2 linked regions of the Homo sapiens genome follow. The protein of the gene in region 1 purifies or fractionates together with the protein of each later gene. This does not show direct contact. Each region holds a gene or a part of one and is shown on either strand. Other genes may lie near its edges.

What was found.
Region 2: the proteins of OLFM3 (region 1) and AGRN purify together in Homo sapiens (affinity purification with mass spectrometry; one large-scale study listed by BioGRID and IntAct). This does not show direct contact.

What each region holds. Positions count from the first base shown.
Region 1 is NC_000001.11:101,986,927-101,990,426, forward strand, and holds part of OLFM3 (noelin-3 isoform 2 precursor), read right to left. Parts: intron 1-3,500.
Region 2 is NC_000001.11:1,047,620-1,051,119, reverse strand, and holds part of AGRN (agrin isoform 2 precursor), read right to left. Parts: coding exon 3,433-3,500; intron 3,345-3,432; coding exon 3,225-3,344; intron 3,109-3,224; coding exon 2,755-3,108; intron 2,254-2,754; coding exon 2,061-2,253; intron 1,885-2,060; coding exon 1,669-1,884; intron 1,555-1,668; coding exon 1,325-1,554; intron 1,218-1,324; coding exon 1,083-1,217; intron 888-1,082; coding exon 791-887; intron 694-790; coding exon 529-693; intron 395-528; coding exon 283-394; intron 89-282; coding exon of another isoform or gene 77-88; intron 1-76. UniProt on the Homo sapiens protein: Isoform 1, isoform 4 and isoform 5: neuron-specific (z+) isoforms that contain C-terminal insertions of 8-19 AA are potent activators of AChR clustering.

The DNA of each region.
Region 1 (3,500 bases):
AATGAATCATCATCTGTAACAACTTAAACCATCCCTGATACGTAAACAAATAGCTTTCCTCACTGTTTTTCTTTTAACTGTATTTGAATGTGCTCACCTCCATGCTACATATAAACTCATTTGTAATTTTATCAAAGTCTTATTTTATTTTTGTTTTAGAACAAATATTTAGATATGGAGTCTTACCTTGATTTGACCGACAAAGAGGTCATGAAGCTTTGGCATCAATGAGGGTTGCAATGAATAAACAATGAATTAATTCCATTCACTTGATTCATTACCCTCAAATGTCTTCTGCTCAGTTTGGGGTCATTATATTACAATAGCTATCTCTTCAGCGTAAGCTTCGCATTACTCTTTTTACATTTCCTTCTGCATAGTCCTTGAGTACTTTAAGATCAATCAAATGAAAGTCATTTTATTCTCTGTTTCTAGTACCCAACTTATAAAGAGTAGAATATATCTGTAGCATCTATAAATAATAAGTATAATAAGAGGTCTTTAGAGAGTCTTGAGCCAAATAATATTTCAGTTTGTTTTTACTACAGTGATATGTATGAAGATTTCATTATGACACAAAACTTACGTACATGTAAAAATAATGACTGTTGGTCCTGATTCCAGATAAATAATTCCCGATGCAGCCGTAAATGTAGATCACTCCCAGAAGAGATGGCATCTTTTGTAAGTCATATTTTACCAGTGACATTTTGGTGCTAGTTAATCAACATTTCCAGTACTGATTCTCTATTTGAAGAAATCTTGCCATCTGGAATTGGTCCCTCTAGTAATATTATTTAAATCATCAAGGGGCAATTCTTCTTAATCATCTTCAACTTAGTTGGAAAAATTAATAGGCTTGTCTATTCAATTTATGTCCTCCCTTTGGGGTTATATAGATGTCTGTTTATTTGTAATATTTAAGCAACTTTATTACTGACATTTTTTCCAGAGCATTTTAACCTACAAAGTTAATCATACAAAATATTTAATTTCTGATACTATTTAGAAGTTAAAATCCAATGAATCTGACTCCACTATACTTATATTTGTTTTTAATTATTAAAAATTATTCTTGATGGTGGTGCTATGTTCTTGGAATAATGTAGTAGAAAAATGGAGGCAATATGGCTTTTCTTTATATGGCACAGTACCATTATAAGTGTATATACTAAGATAATAATTTAAACAGAACCTTTAGATACTTAAAAAAAGGTCAGCTTTTAAAAAGAGTTGGAAAAATATAGGTAATATATGAATTTATCAAATAAAGCTAAGACATTACATACAATAAAAGTAGTCAAAACAACATGTACACATTAATGAAATGTTTGGACTTATAAGTCCATGCAAATGAAATGGACACTAAGAGGATATACTAACTTTGCCACCAAGCATCATGAAACACAGATAATTCACAGGAGTATTGAAGTTGCAGCAACCTAGAGAGCTACTACAAGTCAAAAATAGCACTGAGGATAGTGGGGTGTGCAGGAAATTAACAAGAAATTTAAGGAAAGCTGATTTTTGGCGTAAGTCAAGATAAGTAACCTGGCATAAGAGTTCTAAGTCTTTAAAGGTTCTTAAACTCAGTCTTACTTCACTGCCTCAGTATCTTGTCTGATGGAAAAATGGATCAAAAACATAGATTATATTCATGAATCATTTAACCCAGGATTTCAAGTTTATTAGGTGTTCCTTGACTTATGTATTCTTCATATATTCATTTTTTCATGCAAAAAATACTTATTAAATATCTTATATCAATAAGACACTGTGCTAGCTGCTAGATAGGAAAGAATAGGATAGTGCCCAAAGCACTGAACCTGCCCTTATAATTTATTAGAAGGGATAAAATACAATAAATGAATACATTACAATTTAGTAAGAGAGATACAATAAAATAACTACTAATAAAGTAAGAAAAGCATGTGTACACTAAATACTATTTCAAAAAGAAAAGAGTGATTAGGAATTGTTTTGCAAATTTGGGGTAGGGAGGAAATCCAATTCAACTTTTGTTCATGAACAACTATTCTGCATCAGACACAGTACCTGTAGCTAAAGATACAAATATAAATAAAACATCATTATTTTATTCTAGGGGTTCTTAGTTTATCAGGATTATCCACTCTTGGGGTGCAAGGAATGTCAGGGAAGAATTTGTGGAAAAAGTTGTACTTGAGTTGCATCCTAAAATATAGGTAAAATTTTGACATATGGAGAAGAGGGAAAAAAGCTTTCCAGGGAGAGGCAAAACCATGAATACAACAGCATCTGCAATCTTCTCTCTAAACTTATTTTTATACTTCTGAAGGCTTGGTATGAAAATAACAGAAGGCATAGCTCTGTGATACATGCTTTACAACACCTTGTTTTTAAAGCAAAAAAGAATCAATGTTCTTGGAAAAATCAATTTTTTATTATTTCAGCAACATTTTTGAATGTTGCCATTGAAATTACCTGGCACTGTAGATAGAGATGGTCTTATGCTATTTCTGTATTTTAGATTCCCCCAAATAATCTGCAACCTCTTATAGAAAGTAACAGAGATAAATTAAACCTCATTATGGTATGGTGTGTAAGTATTTTTAAACATTTTTAAAATAATAGTTGTTCGTGAGTGGGGTCTATTCTAGATATTACATATTTCCTTTTGTATTTTTTTTTACCCTTCATATTATTTGCATGTTGAGTATAGAAAAGAAAAAAAATTAACTCATGAGCTACTGAGGTGGATTTGCTACTGGATGAGTAACATCAGCAGAAATATTACAATAGCTAATTGAGGGTCAAGGTCTTTTGAAAAACTCTTTAGAAGTCTCTACTGAGAAGAGCAAGAAGATCAATATAAGCAGAGGGACAGAGAGCAATCCAAGGGAAACAGTAGAGAAATTATATTCCTAAATGCGGTCTTTTCTCCATGACCCTCTGCCTTGATTGAGTAACTTGAGAAAATCCCTTTTCTGACCTTCCCTCCTTAATATTATTTTTGAATCTTCAAAAGAATGTAAACTACTTTCTCATTATCATAGTTTGTGAAGACATAAGAAGTCCATACTTTGCACACTGGCCATAAAAAACAGTTTTATCTGTTGGTAGATTCTTTGTTTAAATATATCTTTCCCCTATGTGATCTCTTCTCCATGATTAGTTTAAAAGTTCTTTTCTTGATGCAGTTGGGCTTTGATATTATGAAGCCACTCTTCGTGTTTTACATTTTTTCCTAAGAAACTTGTAAAATATGCCTTTTTGGATATAATTATGATGTAAACTTGTAAGGTGACAAGTTTAAATTGGAGCTTTGACCAAAATGATGGGCTGGTTTTGAGAAGCTATGCTGATAACTTTATACAATATTCATTTTTCACAAAGCTGAGAAGAGGAAACAGCAAGAGTGAAGGAACGTGATAAGCCTTTTTTATTATTAGGAGTCCTTAATATATGGTCCGCAATAGACTTTAGATTTGGTTATAGGTTGATTGATGTAAGTGGAATAT
Region 2 (3,500 bases), about 100 Mb from region 1:
GGGTCCTTAGTGGGGGAGGAGCTACCCTAGGGGTTGAGGCGCCAGAGACGGTGAGCGGATGAGAGGCCGACAGTACCTTGCGGGATTTCTGGCCTCCGAAGAGCGGGTGGGGTTGCAGAGCGAGAGCAGAGAGCAGGGAGGCAGAGGAGGCAGAGGACAGGGCAGGCGGCCAAGAGAACAGGACAGAAAAACAGCTCCGTGAGCGCCGGCAGGGGCGGGGCTGCCGCCCGAGGAGGAAGAGCAGGCAGCAGCGGGAGTCCCCTCGCGGCCCAGAGCACTCACCGGGGACTCCCCCAACACACGGGGGCCGTCGCCCACACGCAGGGCACCCTTGCGGCCGTTTCGCTCCAGTGAGACCCTGGTCCAGGCTCCCAGGGTGACTGGCTCCCTGCTCCTGGTGAGGAGGGGCAGCGTGAGTGGGCTCTGTCCACCACCGGCCACGCGACCACCCAGGGCCTGAGCGACCTGCTGGTGCCCCGGCCCCGGGCCAGTGCCCCAGGCCTCCCAGAGCCACCCTTGCCGGCCCACCTGATGACCGCTGCCCCCTTGCCCAGGTCGTAGCGGAACTCCAGGCGGCGGTCCCGCAGTGCCAGCGACACGAAGTCCCCCTTGCCGTCCGTCTTCTGCCCGTTGTAGAGCAGGAGGCCGCTGGGGCCTCGTGCCAGGAACACGACCTCCAGCGCCATCTTCTCCCTGGGGTCATGGGGAGTCGGGGTGTCTTTGCTGTCCCCTCCCCACAGGAGAGACGGAGGTGGGGGCCGGCCCTTCCCCCTGCTCCTGCCCCACCGACCCCAGGTCCCGTGCAAAGGTGTGCAGGCCTCTCAGCTCCAGGTGGGAGAAGCCGTTGAAGTCAGCCAGGAAGGGCCCAGAGCCGTCCTGCCCCGAGGCTGTAGGGAGAGTCACCAAGGCCTCAGTCCTGACCCCCGGGGCCTCCTGCACCCCATGCCAGCCGTGTGTGGATCCTAACTCAAAACCCAGACTAGACTGAGCCGCATCCTAACTGCAATGCTACCTGGAACCTGTACCCGCCCAAACGTTCAACCCCCCCCCCCCCCCTGCCCCGAGAGCCCCACGCCCCCGACCTGTCTGGCAGAAGGTGCCCTCACGCCCCAGGGGGCACTCGCACTGAGCACCACCCTCGGGCAGCACACGGCAGGGCGCCGCCCCATGGCAGGGGTTGGGCTGGCAGGGGCTCTTCTCATCGGCACAGGTTGGTCCTGGATGGAGGAAGACGGGACCGGGACCGAGGTCCCAGGAGGCGTCGGTTGGGTACCGCCCACAGGCCCCGGGGTCCCACTCCCACCCGCCCCGGCCCCACCCTCACCGACGCGGCCGGGCGGGCACTGGCAATGGAACCTTCCAGCCTCCAGGTTCTGGCATGGGGCCCCGCCATGGCAGGGGTTGGGCAGGCAGGGGTGGTCCCCGCACTCGCCCACGCCAGAGCCTCGGGTGGCAGCCCCCGGCCCAATGCCAAGCTCCAGGCGCTGGTTGTTGACGTCCAGCAAACGGATGCACCCCCTCAGGCCGGCGCCCACGAAGGTCCGCTCCAGCGCCCTGCCACCAGGAGGGACACCGGGTCAGGGCTCAGGGGCCACAGGCAAAGCCACCTCGTACACCGGGACCCCAAAGGGCCGGGGTCGGGGCCACACCACCCTCCAAGGGACTCACACGGCAGCCTGGTCCTCGGGTACGCCGCCCACAAAGAGGTCTGTGTCCAGGTTGAGGCCGTCGGTGCCACTGGGACTCTCGCCCAGAACAGGGGTCTCACCATCCACCGAGAGGGTGCCCCGGCGCCAGTGCCGGGACAGCTCCAGGCGGTGCCACTGGCCCGGCTCTACCGGCACGGCACTGGTCAGCACCGCCGGCCCCGAACCTGTGTCAAACCTGAGGGCAGGAGCAGGTGCTCAGGACCATCGCCCGGCCCCGTCCCCACCCCGCCTACCTGAGCTGCCCCGCCCCCGTCCCCACCCCACCCACCTGAGCTGCCCCGGCCCCCCCTCCCCCGCCCGTCCCCTCCCCGCCCACCTGAGCTGCCCCGGCCCCGTCCCCTCCCCGCCCACCTGAGCTGCACGCGGCCATCTAGCAGCGCCAATGCCAGGAAGTCCTTGCCCCGGGCGTTGCCATTGTACAGCAGCAGCCCCTGAGGCTCCAGCGCCCGGAATTCCAGTGCCAGGCGCAGCGTGTGGTAGGCGCGGAGAGTGGGGAAGGCCAGGAAGGAGCGGCCCTCGAAGGCCGGCACAGGGGCGCCAAGCACTGCAAAGGGCGACCGGGAGGGCCGGCTGGAAAAGCTCCGAGGATTCCCCACTTTTATCCCTGAAACCGCCCCCTGCTTTTTTTTTTTTTTTTTTTTTTGAGACGGAGTTTTGCTCTTTTTGCCCCGGCTGGAGTGCAGTGGCGCGATCCTGGCTCACCGCAACCTCCGCCTGCCAGGTTCAAGCGATTCTCCTGCCTCAGCCTCACGAGGTGGGATTACAGGCGCCCACCACCACGCCCGGCTAATTTTGTATTTTTAGTAGAGACAGAGTGTCTCCATGTTGGTCAGGCTGGTCTCGAACTCCCGACCTCAGGTGATCCGCCTGCCTCGGCCTCCCAAAGTGCTGGGATTACAGGCGTGAGCCACCGCATCTGGCCGAAACCCCGCCTTAATCCGGGCTCCTGCCCCCAACTCAAAGCCTGATGGTGGCTTAGCCCCACCCCCAATCCTTGCCCCCACCCTGCTGCCTCCCCGCCCTCCTCTGCAGTGGACATCCTTACCCTTCTCACAGACGGCGCCTCCCCTGCCTGCCGGGCAGCTGCAGGTGAAGCCCCCGCCCAATGCCCAGTCCTGGCAGGTCCCCCCGTGGAAGCAGGGCTGTGAGTCACAGGGCTTTGGAGGCTGCTGGGGGGCCGGGGGCCGACGTCCGGGCACACGGCTGGGGGCAGTGGTGGGGGGCCGACGTGTGGTGGGGGCTGCCGTGGTCTTGGCAACGGGCTGGCTTGTGTGACTGGGGTGCGGGGCCCGAGGGGTCACAGCAGAGGACGGCAGGCGCGATGCAGTGGTGGCTCTGGCCGTGGCTCCCGCAGCAATGGCTCCTGACGTGGCCCCCGTGATAAACGCAGGAAACCAGTCTGCCGGCACAGGGAGCTGTTAGGGTTTCCTGGGAGCAGGGCCAGGAAGGGGTGAGGGGCAGGGGCATGGGCAGAGGAGGGGGCAGGTAAGCTGTGGCTCGTGGCCTGGCGCTCACCAAAGTCCATAAATCGCACGTGCTCCTGCAGCGGCCGCCTCACCCCCAAGGACCGGCGCCTGGACACCTGGATCTGCCGGAGCAGGGCCCGGGCCACGTCGGGTGCCCTGAAGGCTGTGGCTGGGGAGGAGGGAGCTCTGAGCATGGCAGAGCCCCAGGCATCCCCCACCCATTGCCTCCCAGGAAGGGTCCAGGGTGCAGGTCTCACTGGGGTCAAAGTGCACATCCACAATGGCGCGGACGGATTTGCCGGGCCCCAGGTCCCGCAAGCGGACA